3 separate regions of the Homo sapiens genome follow, and regions 1 and 3 are each linked to region 2. Evidence: fine-mapped expression QTL. A gene starts in region 2. Each other region holds a variant in brackets. All regions are shown on one strand. Distances are between the middles of the regions.

Region 1 (6,135 bases), 36 kb after region 2:
TCGCTGCGTTGTTCAGGCTGGTCTTGAACTCCTGTTTTGGCCATTTTTCTATTTAGATATTTGTCTTTAAAAATCCTGGTTCCTATGAATGCTGCACATATTCTGAACATTTGTCATTTGTTGCTACAGTGGTCAGGGTAAGTAACGGTGGCTGGGATAACGAAGAACCTCCGCATGTCAGCGTCTGGCTCAGGAGGCCTCCCCTTCTTGCTCACACCATGACAGGGTCTTGAGGCTCTCCCGAGGGTGACTCCAGGACATGGCTCCTTCTCTTGGTGTGTGGCTCTGCCATCTCTGAGTCCTTCTCTCTCAGTCACAGGAAGGGAGGACAGCAGATGATTACAGGGAAGATTTCAGGAGGCCAGGCCTGGAAGAGGCGTCCATCACTCCTGCTCACGTCTGCAGAACAGAATGCAGTGATACAATCCCAGTTCACTGAAGTGTCAACCTCCTGGGCTCAACTGATCCTCCTACCTTAGCCTCCCGAGTATATGGGACCACAGGCGCACGCCACCATACCTAATTTTTAATTTTTATTAGAAATGAAATCTCACTCTGTTGCCCAGGCTGGTCTCAAACTCCTGAGCTCAATCGATCCTCCCACCTCAGTCTCCCAATGTGCTGGGATGACAGGAATGAGCCACCGTGCCTGGCCTGCAAGTGCTTAGTACCTTTGTTCATGTATATGTGTATGAGTGACACTGAACTGTAATTTTGATATCCAGATTACACTCACTTCAGAAAATAACACAGGGTGTGTTTCTTGTCTGTCTCCGAGTCTGGGTAAAACTGGAGCTGTTTCTTGAACTCACGTGCAAAGCACCTGGACTTGGTGTTCTTTGGCAAGACTGAGAATCATCCACACAATCTCTGTCATGGCGATGGATTCTGTGTGCGTGTCTCCTCGAGCTGGGCTGCCACGTGACTTTCCTCCTGATGGTCGAACCGTTTTGGTGGAGTTCTCTTTGTCAGCACAGGCTTTTCTCACCTTTTCAGCATCGGATGTGGCTGAACTGTCTTCCTTTCTCATTCCTGATGGGTGATTTGCTCCTTTTTTCTTAGTCATTTTGCCAGAGGATGTCAATTTTAATAGTCCTTTCAAAGAACCAACTCTTAGCTCTTTTGTCCTCTCAATGGTGTCTGTTTCCATTAATTGTATTAATAAGTGGCTTTATTTACTTATTTATGTATTTATTTTTTTGAGACAGAGTTTCACTTTTATTGCCTGAGCTGGAGTGCAATGGCGTGATCTTGGCTCACTGCAACCTCCGCCTCCTGGGTTCAAGCAATTCTCCTGCCTCAGCCTCCCAAGTAGCTAGGAATACAGGCATGCGCCACCACACCCAGCTAATTTTCTTCTGTATTTTTAGTAGAAATGGGGTTTCACCATGTTAGCCATGACTTGTCTTGAACTCCTGTCCTCAGGTGATCTGCCTGCCTTGGCCTCCCAAAGTGCTGGGATTATAGGCGTGAGCCACCGTGCCTGGCCTGGGCCTTTCTTCTTCTAACTGTTACACTGGGTGCTTCCCTCCTGACTTCCAGCTCCTCTCCTGACTTCCAGCTCCTCTCCTAACAGCAACAGAAGCACACAGGGTTGGATACTGCCCTTGGCTCCCACTGCCATCAGGTGCTCTGTTAAGTCATATGATCACTGAATTTTAAGTGTCTTATCTTTCACCTGGGTCATGTAGGTTTTCTCTTCCTGCAATAAGAGCTTCTTTTAAACAAGACACCGAAGCAGAGGTCAGCCTAGACGGCCTCCGGCTTCAGCTCTTGGTCTTGCTATGACATCAGGAATTCATCTGTCTGTGCCTCCGGCTTCAGCTCTTGGTCCTGCTGTGACGTCAGGAGTTCGTCTGTCTGTGCCAAATGATAGGGACAAAAAAGATGGCAGACTGGTTTTGTTTTGGTTATGCAATTTTTCTCATAACCATAAACGTTAAAAAAAATTTCCAAGTGGATTTAAAAAAATGTATCTTTTATTTTTGAGACAGGGTCTTGCTCTGTCATCCAAGCAGGTCTTGAACTCCTGGCCTCAAGTGATCCTCCTGCCTCGGCCTTCCAAAGCACTGGGATTACAGATGTGAGTCACCACATCTGGCCCCAAAAATGTATCTTTTGTTGTTTTCCATGCCGATTTTGTTGAAGCCAGCTCTCTCATCTTTTCCTTGGAGAAGTATCCAAGGCAGTCAGTTTGCATGGCCCCCATTTCGTGTGTGAACCAATATCTGATCTCACTAACACCAGCATGTGGGGCGAGCCCTGATCTCACTAACACCAGCACGCGGGGCGAGCCCTGATCTCACTAACTCCAGCACGCGGGGCGAGCCCTGATCTCACTAACTCCAGCACGCGGGGTGAGCCCTGATCTCACTAACACCAGCACGCGGGGCGAGCCCTGATCTCACTAACACCAGCACGCGGGGCGAGCCGTGATCTCACTAACACCAGCACGCGGGGCGAGCCCTGATCTCACTAACTCCAGCACGCGGGGCGAGCCCTGATCTCACTAACACCAGCACGCGGGGCGAGCCCTGATCTCACTAACACCAGCACGCGGGGCGAGCCGTGATCTCACTAACACCAGCACGCGGGGCGAGCCCTGATCTCACTAACACCAGCACGCGGGGTGAGCCCTGATCTCAAGAACACCAGCACGCGGGGTGAGCCCTGATCTCACTAACACCAGCACGCGGGGCGAGCCCTGATCTCACTAACTCTAGCACGCGGGGAGAGCCCTGATCTCACTAACACCAGCACGCGGGGCGAGCCGTGATCTCACTAACACCAGCACGCGGGGCGAGCCCTGATCTCACTAACACCAGCACGCGGGGCGAGCCCTGATCTCAAGAACACCAGCACGCGGGGCGAGCCCTGATCTCACTAACACCAGCACGCGGGGCGAGCCCTGATCTCACTAACTCTAGCACGCGGGGAGAGCCCTGATCTCACTAACACCAGCACGCGGGGTGAGCCGTGATCTCACTAACACCAGCACGCGGGGCGAGCCCTGATCTCACTAACTCCAGCACGTGGGGCGAGCCCTGATCTCACTAACACCAGCACGCGGGGTGAGCTCTGATCTCACTAACACTAGACGCGGGGCGAGCCCTGATCTCAAGAACACCAGCACGCGGGGCGAGCCCTGATCTCACTAACTCCAGCACGTGGGGCGAGCCCTGATCTCACTAACACCAGCACGCGGGGTGAGCTCTGATCTCACTAACACTAGACGCGGGGTGAGCCCTGATCTCAAGAACACCAGCACGCGGGGCGAGCTCTGATCTCACTAACACCAGACACGGGGCGAGCTGACACGGTCACACAGTTCGTAGGATCCAGCAGTGTGCTTACGACGTCACGTATTACGGTTCTTGTTCTTGGCAACCCTGTGGGGTTAAGCACTGTCAGCATCGCCATTTCACACCTGGGAAAACTGAGGCAAAGGCCCCACAGTTCCAGAGTGAGGGTCAAGTCCACAGCCCCTGACTTGAGAGCTATGCTCTTGACCCACTACGTGCGTCCTAGAAATCAAAGACATCAGATTAAAGTGTGAGTTTAGGATCAGGAACCCACCTGCCTGCTGCTAGAGAGGCTGAGGTGGTCCTGCCAGCCATGCGCTGCTGCAGGCGTCTCTGTGGGCATGACCTGGGGCTGGCATTTGGTGAGATGTCAATCCACACCTGGGAATCCGTCCTATTGGCCCTAAATATGGAAAAGATATTTATTGTGGCATTATTTATAATAACCTAGGTTGGAAACAGCCCACATGCCCATGCTGGGAAGTGGATAAGTCACCTGTGCCTTTTCGATTCAACTGGTCATTGTGCAGGCATTAAAAGTAATGCTTCCTTCCTGGCCAACATGGTGAAACCCCGTCTCTACTAAAAATACAAAAATTAGCTGGGCGTGGTGGTGCGTGCCTGAAATCCCAGCTACTCGGGATGCTGAAGCAGGGGAATCGCTTGACC[G/A]CGGGAGGTGGAGGTTGTGGTGAGCTGAGATCGTGCCACTGCACTCCAGCCTGGCAACAGAATGAGACTCTGTCTCAAAAAAAAAAAAAAAAAAAAAGTAACGCTCCCTATTGTCAGTAACGGGGAAAAGCAACGATCATACTATCATAAGTAAAATCAAACCAAATGCAGACACCACCAGGGAATGCGTGCCCGTCTCCTGGGCCATCCTAGACAGCCGTGTCCACACTTGCCACCCTCTGTGGCACATCCCGACAGACAGCAGAGGATGCCTGCTCTGAGCAGCTCCCTGTCCCGCCCCCTGGTTTCTTTCTTGTGTCCGAGTTCCTGACTCCTGACGCCGGCTCTTCCCTGCCAACAGCTAATTCTGAAGGACACTAAGACACAGAGAGCGTGTGCAAGGACTGGGAGTTGTGTTAGTTCATTGTGTGTTACTATAAAGGAACACCCGAGGCTGGGTAAGTTTTTGTAACGAGGTTTACGTGGCTGGCGGTTCTGCAGGCTGCACAGGTATCTGCTTGGCTTCTGGTGAGGCTGCAGGGAGGGAGCAAGAGACGGGAGGAGGCACCAGGCTCTTTAATGCAGGAGTCCCTGACCTCAAGACGGGTCCATGGCCTGTTAGAAGTGGGTCACACAGCAGGAGGTGGGTGGCAGGCGAGTGAGCGTTACCGCCTAAGCTCCGCCTCCTGTCAGATCAGCGGTGGCATTAGATTCTCACTGGACCACGAACCCCACCGTGAACTGCATGCGAGGGATCTAGGTTGCACGCTCCTTATGAGAATCAAATGCCTGATGATCTGAGGTGGGACAGTTTCATACTCAAACCATCCACACCACTCCCTGTCCACGGAAAAAACTGGTCCCAGGTGCCAAGAAGGTTGGGGACCACTGCTTTAAACAACAAGCTCTCCAGTGAACCTCAAGAGTGAGAGCTCACTCATTACTGTGAGGAGGGCACCAAGCCATTCTCGAGGGATCTGTCCCCGTGACCCGAATACCTCCTGCCAGGCCCCTTCCCACACTGGGGATCACATTTCCACATAAGATCTGGAGGGGACAGACGTCCAAACTATACCAGGAGCTCGAATGCACCCTTCACCTAGGACAGGATCGGCAAGCAAATCCGGCCCACCTCCTACGTTTGTAAATAAAGTTTTATTGGCACAGCCACGCTCGTTCATTCATATGCCATTGACATCTGCTGTTGCCCTACACAGCAGGGTGGGGACCTGCTCTTCACGGGAGAGCTAGTTGTTTAAAGCAGTGGTCCCCAACCTTCTGTGGTCCCCCGTGGGTGCTGAGGCACAGGCTGTATGGCTGCAGTGCCAAGAATATTTCCTGCCTGACCCTTCATCGGAGAAGCGTGCCCACCTGTGCTCTAGATTCCCCATGACTGACATTTAGCCACTCTCCTCTGTCACTCTCCGGGGACGTGCACACACCGTTGGCATGAACTGCAGACGCCACGCTCTGCGGCCAAGAGCCTCAGTGTGCATCTGCAGTAGGAGGACGTCAGTGAGGACCGCCCCGTCCCTGCTGCGCTGGTGCTGACTGTGCCTGCAGTTGACTGTGCCTGCAGTTGACTGTGCCTGGAGTCTACAATCCAGGTCGGCCAAACGTCCCAGCAAAGTCCTTCAAAGCAACTCTTCCGATCCAGGATCACACGTCACACGTGCTCTGATGCCTGCTTCTGAACAATTCACCTCCTGATATGTCCATTTCTGGGAGTGCGAGTATTCCTCTCCTGGTGACAGCTGGCTGAGGCCGTCCAGCCTCAGGACATACCGGGAACGGCTGCATAAGGAGATCCGGGCCAGGGGGCCCACCAGGATGTCCTGCCCTGTGGGGGTCAACACTGGCCGTGGTCCGCCGGCGGCATCCAGGGACAGTCTATCTAGGTGAGGCTGAGGCTGCCCGCCCCCTCGCTCCCTCACCCCCTCACCCCCATGCTGACGGCAGTGGGCTGACCACAGCCCCGGGGAGCCCCACGGGAAGACTGGCCTCCCCAGCACACGCCCAATAGTGTGAGACACAGTCATCACAGAGGCAGGTACACGACACCACGGGACTTGCCACCTACCTACCCCCATTGGGACCACGGGCCATTGAGAAGCCACGAAGGCCGTGCTTCCAGCAGCGACTGAGGCGGCAGGACCATCAGGAG
Region 2 (6,240 bases):
CTGGGTGTGGTGGTGCACACCTGTAGTCCCAGCTACTTGAGAGGCTGAGGCAGAAGAATCACTTGAATCCAGGAGGTGGAGATTGCAGTGAGCTGGCGCCACTGCACTCCAGCCTGGCGACAGAGCAAGACTTTGTCTTAAAAAAAAAAAAAAGAAAAGAAAAGAAATCCGGAACAAGAGCTGGAAGCAGCAACCCACGTCCCATGTGGGCTGGGCGGCGGCGGCGCTGGTCAGGCTGAGCAACCCCATCCAGGCTGCGTTATCAATGGCCCTTGTCTGGCAGTCAAGCCACTGGTTAGATTTGGTTCCACTGGCTCACAGGGACAGACCATGTGGCCATTTAGAAAAAAGGCTTAAGGGGTAGGGGTGAAACCCTGGGACATGAGAAAGCTGGCAACTGAGCTTGGCCTGCATAGGAGGCAGGAGGACTCAGCCAGGAGGGGCAGCAGGAGGAGGGGGGCCAACGAGGCCAGCACAGCAACTGAGGAGGACTTCTCAGTCTGCAGGCAGTCCGCTGTGGCAGCAGAGGAGAAGCGGCTGAGTCCCAGCTGCACCTCTCAAGAATGTGGAGGGCGCAGATAAGACGGAAGCTCCTGTGGAGGTGGGGGTGGGGCAGGGATGTTCCAGGGCAGATGAGAGCAGGCTGCTATCGACAGTCCCCACCTCTCTCTGCCCTTGCAGACCCCTGACACTGAGCAGCCAGGGGGCGGGAGGCGCTCAGGGCGGCCTGCAGAACAGAAGCCCCTTGGCAGAGGCCCAGCCCTGGTCTTGTGGTTTGCAGACTTGGAAGTTCAAGAACTGACTCAAAGGTATTGCTTATGAGGAAAAAGAACCAAGACTATGGTGAGAAGGGGACACATACGTGGTGGAGCTCTACTGGATCCAGCCTGCAGGCCCCAAGGACGCCTTTCCGATGGAGGCAATCCCAGACCTCACAGCAGGGCCTGCACTGCCCACGCCATCTCCCGGGCTGTTGCTGTGACACACTCTCAGGGTGGCCCCAAAACATAAAGCAGTGTTCTCATGGGGGCGATTTTGTCCTGAGGGCACATTTGACAATGTGTGGAGATGTTTTGGATTGTCACAACTGGGAGGGGGCCCTACTGACACCAAGTGGGCAGAGGCGAGGGTGCTGCCGAACGTCCTACAACACACAGGATGGCCCCTCAACAAAGACTCGTCCATTCCAAAACAGCCACGGTGCCAAGGTGGAGAAGCACTGAGAGAGAGACCTTCCCAGAGGCAGAGCCTGGGGCTGCCAGACTTTCTAACCAAAAGCTCTCAGTTCACTGGCAAAGACAGTCACCAAACAGATGCCCAGGAGATCTGATGGGCCTGCGTTTACCTCCCTCCCTCACCCTGCGCCCAAGGACACAGTATATGCTCTGCGTCAGTGACTGAGACATGGTGTTTTTCCTGTATTCCTGTTCAATTCCTGCCCTGGAACTCTGGGCCCGACTGTGGACATGTCCCCTCACCTGCAAGGGACTCCATCAGGGTACTGCTCTCTTTAGCACCTGTGGGCTCTCCTCCTGGCTCCATCTTGCAGAACACCAGCAGTTGGAACAATTTCTGCTTAGGTAAAAGAAAAGGAAAATAAATCACAGCCAGGGCTAGGTACAGGGGCCAGGGGCAGTGAGGTCAGAATGCCTTCAGAGGAAACTGTCAGAACAGGCCCTGTGGGAGCTGCATCACCCAGCTGGGCCCACTCCTGTCACTAGCAATCAAGGTCCTGGCTCAACAGACACTCCCAGAAGCGGGTGTTCTGTTCTGTGGGATGCCCAGGAACTCTGGTCCAGGCTCTGCGGGTCCCCCTCCACCCAGGGCTGACGCAGAGCACAGGTGGGCGTGGCCACAGCTTCCTAGCTCCATGCTGAGGAAGCCCGCGCCCTCCAGCAGTCTTCAAATGTCTAGAGAAATTCCCATGGGTTTTAAAATTTTCTTGGTAGTTATAAGGATTTGAATATAAAAATGTTAAACCAGAAGAAAAGAACAACTTATTTGAATGGTAAAGTTTTGGAATGAGGAATGATTTTTCTAAGCCTGACATCAGATGTCTGACAAATTCAACTACATAAAAAAATTTAATGTAAAAAAAAAAAACCAAAAAGGGAGGAATACGTGCAATGCAAAGATTCATCCCTATCTGATAAAGACCTCTATATATTAATGAGAAAGGAAGGAAAATTGGCAAAGATCATGAATAGGTAACTCACAAAGAAGAAAAACCAGTAGGCAATACATTTTTTTAGGTCTCACCTCAAGTGCAATTAAGAAATGTAATTTGGCTGGGTGCTGTGGCTCACAGTTGTAATCCTAGCACTTCAAAAGGCTCAGGATGGAGGACTGACTGATTACAAGAGTTCCTGACCAGCCTGGGCAACATAGTGAGACCCCGTCTCTACAAAAAATCAAAAAATTAGCCAGGTGTGATGGTGGGCGTCTGTAGTCCCAGCTACTAGGGAGGCTGAGGTGGGAGGACTGCCTGAGCCCAGGAGGTCTAGGCTGGGGTGAACCGAGATTTCGCCACTGCACTCCAGCTGGGCGTTGGAGTGAGACCCTGTCTTAAAAAAATAAGTAAATAAAGTGATTAATTAGTAAATTTAATTTAAGCCGCCTGTAATCCCGCCTGCCAGGGAGGCTGAGCGGGAGGATCGCTTGAGCCCAGGAGTAGGAGGCCAGCCTGGGAAACATAGCGAGACCCCGCCGCTTTTACAAAAAGGTAATTTAAAGTGCAATTTTTTAGTCTGGAAGCAGATTTTTGCAAGTACCTTACCGGCAAGAATTAGGGAACAGGCCCTCCTGTTCACAGCTGGGAAGAAGCTCGATGAGCTGGGCCGGTGGGAAATTTGACAACTTACAAAGGCCTGAAGACGCGCAGCGGGGACTCAGCTCGCAGGAAGCCCCGCACGTGTCGGACCCCGGGTACGCACCTGCAGGGCCGCCTCCCCCACGCCGCGCCCGAGAGCGGCTGGGGCCTGCACTGCAAGGAGAGCGCGGGACGCGCGGGCCACGGCGGCGGTGACCGCCCCGTTCTCTCGGCCGCGCCCTCAGCCCTCCCGAATCGACACCCCAGCAAGAGAAGCCGGGGCCTCAGCGTCCAGAGCAGCTGGACTGCACCCGCTACGGTCCCCGCCCCGTCGCGCGCCGGAAACGCCAGTCTCCACCCCTGGCCCGCCCCCTCGGCACTTCCGGCGACGCTCTGGGCAGCGGGAGGACAGCGCGCTCGGCGGCGGGAGAGCGGGACGGCCCAGCCGCGGCGCCTTCAGCTCATCGGTTGCCCGCAGGCGCCGGCCGAGTCCTTCCTGCCGGGCAGGAAGCCCTGCCTCGTGGGGGGCAAGGTCGAGCCGTTGGCGCGCCGGGATCCGGCTCGAGCCAACTGAGGACCGGGCACCCGCAGGACGTGTCAGGAGGTGTCGAAGGCCCGCTGTGGGGCGGCCACGCGCGTTCCCGTCCGTTCCCCGCGGCGTCCCGCGCTTGTCCCGGGTCCCGCTCGGCTCACGGGACCCTCCAGGCCCCCGGGGCTGTGGCAGCACGCGGGTCCCGAGCGTGGGCTTCCTTGGGGCCGAGAGCTTGGAGCGCCCCAGGCGCTGCCCCCCGCCTCCCTGCAGGACGCCGCCCTCGCGTCTCCGCTGCAGAGAAGCCCTTGCTGCCCGCCTCTCGCGGGCTCTGGGCTCTTTCTCACCAGGGACCGAGCTCTCATTCGTTCAGCCTTCCCCGGGCAAGATGCACCTCCTGTCCAAGTCTCTCGCCCTTCCGCCTGCCGCAGACCGAAGGTCACGCATCTCCAGCTGGAATGCTGCAAAAGTGACGCTTTTCATCATGGGTGCAAAGTGTACAGCTGCAATGTGGACTTGTTCCCTCTTACAACGAGTAGACAGACCCTCTCTGGGGAGAAAAGAAAGGCTGAAGAACCGATTCCCATGAGAGAACCCTAAGAAGACAGCAACAGAGGGCCAGACGCGCCCCTGGAACTGGACCCTGGACTGGGGCGGGAGGGCCACAGCCTTGGGAGCCCAGGTCCCTGCCCGCGCCTCCGACAGTCCCGCGCCGCCGCCACCCGGCATCTGCCTCTGGGCCTCCACATCTCGTGCCTGGAACCGCGTTCATTGCGCACTGCACCAGTAAACACCTGAACACTCCCACCACATGCTGCACGTTTATTTGTAACAAATTAGAAGCTGTTGTAAAAGATAAAAATTAAAACACTTAGACTGGGTGGGCGAGAGGCTCATGAATGTAATCCCAGCACTTTGGGAGGCCAAGGCAGGAGGATTGTTTGAGTCCAGGAGTTTCAGACCAGCCTGAGCAACATAGTTAGAACCGTGTCGACTAAAAATTTTTTTTAAAAATTAGCCGGGCGTGGTGGCCGGCGCCTGTGGTACCAGCTACTCGGGAGGCTGAGGCGGGGGGACCACTTGAGCTCGGGAGGCGGAGGCTGCAGTGAGCCGAGATTGGCACTGCACTCCAGCCTGGGTGACAGAGATTCTGTCGCAAAACAAAAACAACAACAACAACACACACCACACACACACACATCTAAAAGAGATGATGTAGAAGTACAAGTAACCGTTTCCCTCTGCATCCCAGTGGAACGTCGTGGGTCTTCTGAAGACCCTCTCTTGCCCTGCAGGCTCCGGTACTCCAAGCACGCGAGTCTGCGCAGGAGGCGCTTCGCTCTCCGGAGCTCCCCACTGCCTCCTAGACACAGTCCCGGCTCCTTACCCCGGGCGGAGGCTCTTCCAGACGGGTCCCGACTGCCTCTGTATGCCCACTGCTGCCGTGCCAGAAGCCACTGCCCTCTCCTCGCCCCTTTCCAAATGTGCCCTGCCTCAGGCCCGTGTCATGCTGTTCCCTGTGCCGCTTTCGCCCGTCCCCTCACTCCCCGCCACCAGAACCGGGAAGGCGGTGCCCCCTTTCCAGGCCCAACTTCCGGCACTGAACCTCTAGGAGTCCGCAGCCTCCTCCGCCCGGGCCTCTCCCCGCTGGCTCAGACCGCAGGGCCAGCAGCCCCGCCCACACGGAAGCCCCGCCCATCAGGCCGACCCCGCCCCTCCTGCCTCGGCCCCGCCCTCGCCTTGGCCCCGCCTCCTCGCTGGCAGCCGGCAGGCGCAGTCGGGGTCGTGGGACCCAGGAGGGGCCTCCAGCAGGTGCCTTGGCGAAGATCCTGGACTGCGTCACAGCCCAGGGTAGCCGTCCCGCGGCCCGGCTTTGGAGCTTCCCACGGACACCCGGGGCTCTGCCTCCTCCGAAATCACCCCTCACCGCTTCCCTCCTGCTCTCCCACAATGGGAGGCCACACGCTGGGGCCCCTGAGAAACAGAATCGAAAACACAAGGCAGGACTCCAGGGACATGGGGGTGGGGGAGTGAATCCAAGCAACTCAGGACGCCCGCGAATAGCTCAGATCCTGCGAAGAGCCCGCGCCCTGGAATTCTGTTTGCTAAGGGGGTCCTCACGGTGTAGGGTGAGACAGAGAACCTCTGGGCAGTTGCAGGTGGTAAATGTCCATGATAAAGGGCAAGTTCACAGTCTAGAAAATTCTGGATTTCTTGATCCAAAAGTAGCCGAGTCCAGGCCGGAGAGGTGGCTCACGCCTGTAATCCCAGCACTCTGGGAGGCCAAGACAGGAGGATCACTCGAGGTCAGGAGTTCGAGACCAGCCTGGCCAACATAGTGAAACCCCATCTCCACCAAAAAAAAAATTACAAAAAATTAGCCAGGCATGTTGGTGCTTGCCTTAGTCCCAGCTACTCGGGAGGCTGGGGCAGGAGAATTGCTTGAATCCAGGAGGCGGAGGTTGCAGTAAGATTTCGCCACTGCACTCCACAGTGAGACTCCGTCTCAAAAAAAAAAAAAAAAAAAAAAAAAAAAAAAAAGTAGCTGAGTCTTAGAATACCACCCCTTCAAGGACTGTTTCCATGAGCCTATCCACTGAGTCTCTTACCTGCTACCCTGAAAAAAAAAAGTACGATGAAGAAATTACCAAAGGCACCCCTGAAAAACAAAGACAGCTGGGCCTGGCGCAGTGGCTCACTCCTGTCATCCCAGCACGTTGGGAGGCCGAGGCGGGTGGATCACCTGAGGTCAGGGGTTTGAGACCAGCCTGGCCAACACGGTGAAATTCCATCTCTACTAAAACTACAAAAATTAGCCGGGAGTGGTGGTGTTCGCCTGTAATCCCAGGTACTCGGGAGGCTGAGGCAGGAGAATCACTTGAGCCCGGGAGGTGGAGATTGC
Region 3 (5,534 bases), 37 kb before region 2:
CTCAGAGGCAGGACCCGGGGGCTCTGGGGCAGCAGGGCCCACACACCCCTCCTGCCCTTGAGCCCTCCTCTCTACCCCAGGGCCCAGGAGCTTTGGCTTGGCTCTTGTGCTGCTGATTTTAGCTGCTTCAGCCTATTTTCTTCATCTCTGCTAGAAGGCATCCTTCTAAGAAAAGCAAACCTCTTCTCCCCCAGGGCAGGCCCCCACGCCATGCTGTGCCCCTCCCACCAGCCCTCCCGTGGGCCCCCTGCCGAGTCACATGCACACCTGAGTTTGCTGAGCTCCTTTGATGCAATGTTTTGTTCAAAGCCTGTTTCTCCAAAGCGGTACTGGAGCTTCCACAGGGACAGAGGTTCTAGCTGTGTCTGTGGGGGCTGCCCACGGGAGGCCATGGGACCTTACTGAGCGTCTCGCGCTGTGCCCCTGGCCTGGTGTAGCGGCTGCCTCGCCTGCCCCACAGCAGCCCTGCAGGACCTCCCTGGCCAGGAGGGACATGGCAGGCGAGGACTGCTTATGCAGGGCCATGGTGGACAGTCCGGGGAGTGGTGGTGTCGCGTGGGGCCCAGTGGGGCCGAGCCTCCACAGAGGGGCAGTGGGAGCTGAGCCCCTCGGGCCTGTGCTGCTGGTCTCTGGGCCTCTCGTCCTCTGTCCTGAGAAGCTAGTTTGGGGAAGGATTGCTGCTGTTTATCAGAAATGCCTTCCTCCTTCTTACCAAATGATTATGCATTTATTTCTCTAAAATTTTCTTATGAAAGCTTTTCAGACGTGCAGTTGAAAGAATTCCTGGTGAACACCCTCGTTCCCACCACGAGCCTCTCACTCTGCTCGCCTGCTCCCAGCTCACCCCCCATCTCTAAACCACACTGATCTTAGAATAAAATGCAGGGAATGGTGGGACAGAGGCCGCAGAGTTGTAAAAGGGTACACCTAGTTATTCAGTTTTCTGCTTTGAAGCCTTAACTTTTATTTTACTTGTGAAATTTTGTGGAAATTGGTGTGTTTTAAAATTGTACATGTTCCATTTTCATGTAATATAAATGTAGTAGCAACGTTAAGTGGTAAAGGAGGAGAAAGCAGTAGCGCCTGAAATCTTCTGCAGCTTTCTCACGACCCGCTCCCAGATCACTGTGGTCGCCACCTCCACGCAGGTTGATTGTCGTGTGTCATGCAGAACATGCTTCTGAACTTACAGAAGAAGGCCTAGCTTCTTGCTCTTGGCATAGTACGCACGAAAGCGTAGTTTAAAGCAATGAGGTCATGTCAGCTGGAGGCCGAGCCTCTGGCCGCTCTCTCATACGATGTGTCTTCCGATGCCTGCAGGAAGGCCTGTGAGATTGAGCGTGGCAGCGGAGGAGGTCGCCACTTTTTATGGGAGGATGTTAGATCATGAATACACAACAAAGGAGGTTTTCCGGAAGAACTTCTTCAATGACTGGCGAAAGGTAGGTACCCTGGGCGGCCGCCACAGCTGTCCTGGACCTGGCTGGCTAGGCGTCTGCGGTTCTGCAGTGCTGCCTCTGAACGCCCCTCGCAAGTTCTCGGTGGCCCCTGTGTGACCACTCACAGGTGCCGTCATGGCTCTTTGCAGCTTCGAGCTCCTGGGCTCAAGCCATCCTCCTGTCTCGGCCTCCTGAGTAGCTGGGACCATAGGCGGTGCCAGTGTGTCCAGCCTAGTGCACCTCAGACCTTTCCCTTCCCAGGCAGGCTGTGGATGTGGAGGCCGATTTGTGGTCCTTACTCCATGGACCGCTGAAAGGACAGGGGTCTGGCATATAAGAAGGAGAGTAGAGGAGGCCGCATGCCATTTCCCAGCCCCCAGGAAGACATGCTTGGCGAGAAGCTCTTTGGAGGGGAGGGTGCTGCCTCAAGGCTTTTTCCTTGCTCATTTTCAAGGTGACTGCCCTTCGCCCATGGCCTGACTGATTTTATGTGTGTGCCGCGGA[T/C]TCTGTGCCCTCCGGGGTTTCTGTCTGCCCCACACCTGCGAGGCTCGCCCCTGACTGCTTGTCCCGCAGCATCTTCCTGGCTCTGGCCGGGTCGCGTTTCCTCTGTTCCGTGACTCATGCTAGTCCATTTCCCTATTCGTGGGTGTTTGATTAATTCCTGTTTTAGGCCTTTGCATGTGTAAAGCTGCCATGAACATTCCCACGTGGGTGAGGGCACATATGTGTGAGTTGCCTCTGACAGGACTTGGGGTGAAATTGCTGGGTCACGTGTGTCCAGCTTACTAGCAACACCAGGCTGAACTGTCCACACGCCTGCCGCGGGTGCGAGGCACCTTTCTAGTGGGCACAAAATGACACCTCGCCGTGGGTGTGGTTTGCGTTTCCCTAATGACAAGTGATATTAAGCATCTTTTGGTGTACTGACGTGTCATTTCAGTATTTTCTTTCGTGAACTTTTGTCTATTTAAAAAACTGAGTTGCTTGCGTATTCCTCGCTCATTTATCGGAGTTTTAAAAACGCATCCTGGGTGCAGGTTCTTTGCCAGACGCACATGCTGTGAATGTCATCTCCCAGACTTTGCCTTTTCACTTCTCAGTGAGGTCTCCAAACAGAAAACTGTAACTTAGTTATGCCGTTTATCAATCTGTCTTTTATGGTGAGTACTTTTGTGTCCTGTTTTAAGTCCATTATCAGAAATATGATTTGCAAAAATCTTTCATGGTGTTTGTAGTTTCTATTTGCGTTCTCTTAACAATGTCTTTGGAAGGTCAGGAGTTTGGAATACTGATGAGGTCCCACGTTTCATGTTTTGTCACAGGTTTGCTTTTGTTGTTTTGTCTAAGAAATCTGCTGAATTCGGCAGCACAGAGATTTCCTCCTATGTTTTTCCTAGAAGTTTTGGTTTTAGGTTTCCATTGAGGTCAGCTTGGTTTAGGTGGAACTCTGAGTTAATTTTGGTTATAGTGTGGGGTAGAGGCCGAGGCTCGTGTGTTGCATGTGGGTGTCTGACTGCCCCGAGCCAGCTGCTGGAGCCTGTGCTTCCTTGTCCCCTGTGCAGGCTCCGCTTCTGGACCCTCTTCTTTGGCCTGATGCCACCCCTCTGCCTTTCACGACAGCTTTGTGAGGTGGCACCAGCTGCCCGGCATCCTCATTCTCCCTCTGGTCAGCACTTCTTCCAGTCACTAGCAGAGCTAGGAAGGGAGGCAGTGTCACAAAGCAGCAGAACAGGAGTGGGTGGCACATCCGGCGGCCCCGGGAGACACAGGGACGGACCCTGAGCCCGTGGTTGTGGCCGAGCAGGGCTCCATCCTGGCACAGATGGTGTCGTACCTGAGCTCCTCGGAAGAGGCGGATCATCCCCATCCCACAGCGAGACACGTTTGACAGCAGCTCCTGAGGTCTCACAGGCCTAAGTGGCCGAGCCTGGACTGGGACCGTGAGCTGGTGCCCGCAAGCCTGGGCTTTTGTCCATGGGCTGTGCAGAGTTTTTGTTGTGTAGGAAACGAAAGGAGAAACAGTTGCCTGTGATCTGCGGCTCTCCCTCAGGTCAGTGTCTCCTGTTCCCGCGTCCTGGCTTTTCCTGGGCACTAGTTTTCGTGTGAGTGTGATCAGTGTGCCTGTAATGTTTTCCCCACTTAGCATTTTATCCCGCTTAGTCTCCACACGGGTAGATCATCGTCAAACTGTTTTCTGCTGTGCTTTCCAAAATTCACCTTGAAACTGAATCCCCAGCACCACAGGACAGAGGGAGGGCCTTTAGGAGCTGATTGGGCTGTGAGGACTCCACCTTGCTGCAGCCCTTAGGATTAATTTAGGGCCTTAGGGCAGGGCTGGGTGGAATTAGCTGGGCCCCTTCTGTCCTTCTGTCCCCTCCACTGTGTGAGGACAGCCTTCAGGGCATCCTCTCAGAAGCAGGGACTGGGCCCTCCATAGACGTCAAATGCTGGGACCCTGATCCCAGCCTTCCAGCCCCCAGAGCTGTGACTATGATTTACAACTGACCAGTCCCCGGTATTTTGTGGCAGCAGCACGTATGGACTGAGACTTTGCCCTCGCGAATCCCGTCACGTTCACCAGATGAGCTCCCGACCATGTATCCTGCTCTGTCCGGTCATGACGTTTCTGCAGTTGCCCTTAGTGCGGTCGTCATCCGGGTTTTCATACTGGAGAGTTTATTTAGGATGGATCTCAAAGTGGAATTATTGGGTGCAAAGGTTTTAGCCAGTTTTACTACTGACTTGTTGTGAAGTTGCTTTTGGAGAACTGTGCCCTCCGCTGCCCCACCCAACTCCATGCCTGCAATAACAGAACCAGCTCTATCTGTGGGGTCTGCGGGGAGAGGCTCTATTTACGGGGCCGCAGGACCGTGCGCAGGTTCTGCCTATTGCACACACGCCTCCGTCGGACATGGCGAGAGCGCGTTTCTGTCCGTCAGACATGGCGAGAGCGCTCTGCATGTCTGTCCTTCAGACATGGTGAGAGCGCGTGTCTGTGGTTTTTGCAGGAAATGGCGGTGGAAGAGAGGGAAGTCATCAAGAGCCTGGACAAGTGTGACTTCACGGAGATCCACAGATACTTTGTGGACAAGGCCGCAGCCCGGAAAGTCCTGAGCAGGGAGGAGAAGCAGGTTGGGCTGCCTCGAGCGTTGTGTGACCTGAAGTGGCCCCTGGGAACGAGAGGCCGGCCTGGCCCAAAGACTGAGAAAGGCCTGTGGCCTTAGAGAAGCCCCTTCTCACAAAGCTGCTCTTTTCTCGTCAGCCTTAGCGCCCCTGCATGTGCTTAAGTGTCGTTCCGCTTCCCCAGAGCACATTTGAGAGTAAACCCGGTTTGAAATGGATAATTTACCATCATTGATCAAGGGTGGGTTCCCAGACGGGCCGTGGGCTGAGGGCGGGGCTTGTGCAGGCCAGTCGGCTTCTTGCTGTTCTGTGCCATGCGTCTCCCTACATCTAACAGGAACCTGCCGTGCTGTGATCTCCATGTGGCCTTCTCAGGGATTCCCTTAGCCCTCCTCCTCCATGGCGGGCAGCCACGCTCCCTCCACCTGGCTTTACTGCTTAGGCCTAAAACAGCCGAAGTCTGTGCAGGGGCCGGGGAGTCCAGGCCATGGGGTGGTTAGGCCATGGCTCTCGGTGCCCCCTGCAAGCCCACCTGCACTGTCCCCTGCCCCTGCAACCTCCATGGATTGTGAAGGGCTTTGAGGGTCCAGCTGAGTTAGCCAGACAGAGCAGGGTGGTCCCGGGTTAGCAACAACGGACTGAGGCCTGTTCTCTTCTCTTCACTGCTAATGTCCACTGACTGTTTTATTAACTCAGAAGCTAAAAGAAGAGGCAGAAAAACTTCAGCAAGAGTTCGGCTACTGTATTTTAGATGGTCACCAAGAAAAAATAGGCAACTTCAAGATTGAGCCGCCTGGCTTGTTCCGTGGCCGTGGCGACCATCCCAAGATGGGGATGCTGAAGAGAAGGATCACGCCAGAGGATGTGGTTATCAACTGCAGCAGGTGCGTGGCCGGGCGGGCAGCAGGCGGGCACTGGACCCCCGCCACCCGGGTGAGGCTGGCTTTTCTTCACCTCCTGGGAGAGGGAGGC

Direction of the effects. Alleles are on the strand shown, and positions count from the first base shown. SD is a standard deviation of normalised expression in the study named. Not every link is listed here.
With allele T in place of C in region 3, the expression in hippocampus of the gene that starts at base 3,127 in region 2 is higher (moderate effect, 0.51 SD a copy in GTEx).

What was found.
Region 1: its variant is fine-mapped to the expression of ZNF696 in whole blood (TOPMed, PIP above 0.99).
Region 3: its variant is fine-mapped to the expression of ZNF696 in hippocampus (GTEx, PIP above 0.99). The same link has a PIP of 0.9 or more in cerebral cortex.

Annotation. Positions count from the first base shown.
Region 1 is chr8:143,252,564-143,258,698 of GRCh38, reverse strand. All of the region lies in intron 2 of ZFP41 (ZFP41 zinc finger protein), which reads right to left. Among named protein-coding and RNA genes, the nearest start is that of ZFP41, 8.7 kb to the right of the region's middle. The variant G/A (reference allele first, on the strand shown) is at 3,972.
Region 2 is chr8:143,288,304-143,294,543 of GRCh38, reverse strand. It overlaps ZNF696 (zinc finger protein 696), which reads right to left and starts at 3,127. Exons shown (of 3, transcript NM_030895.3): 1 at 2,777-3,127; 2 at 1,479-1,572. The coding sequence starts at 1,542. RefSeq lists a silencer at 2,873-3,592 and an enhancer at 3,063-3,638.
Region 3 is chr8:143,325,258-143,330,791 of GRCh38, reverse strand. It overlaps TOP1MT (DNA topoisomerase I mitochondrial), which reads left to right. Exons shown (of 14, transcript NM_052963.3): 3 at 1,321-1,442; 4 at 4,448-4,570; 5 at 5,259-5,446. Among named protein-coding and RNA genes, the nearest start is that of TOP1MT, 6.9 kb to the left of the region's middle. The variant T/C (reference allele first, on the strand shown) is at 1,944.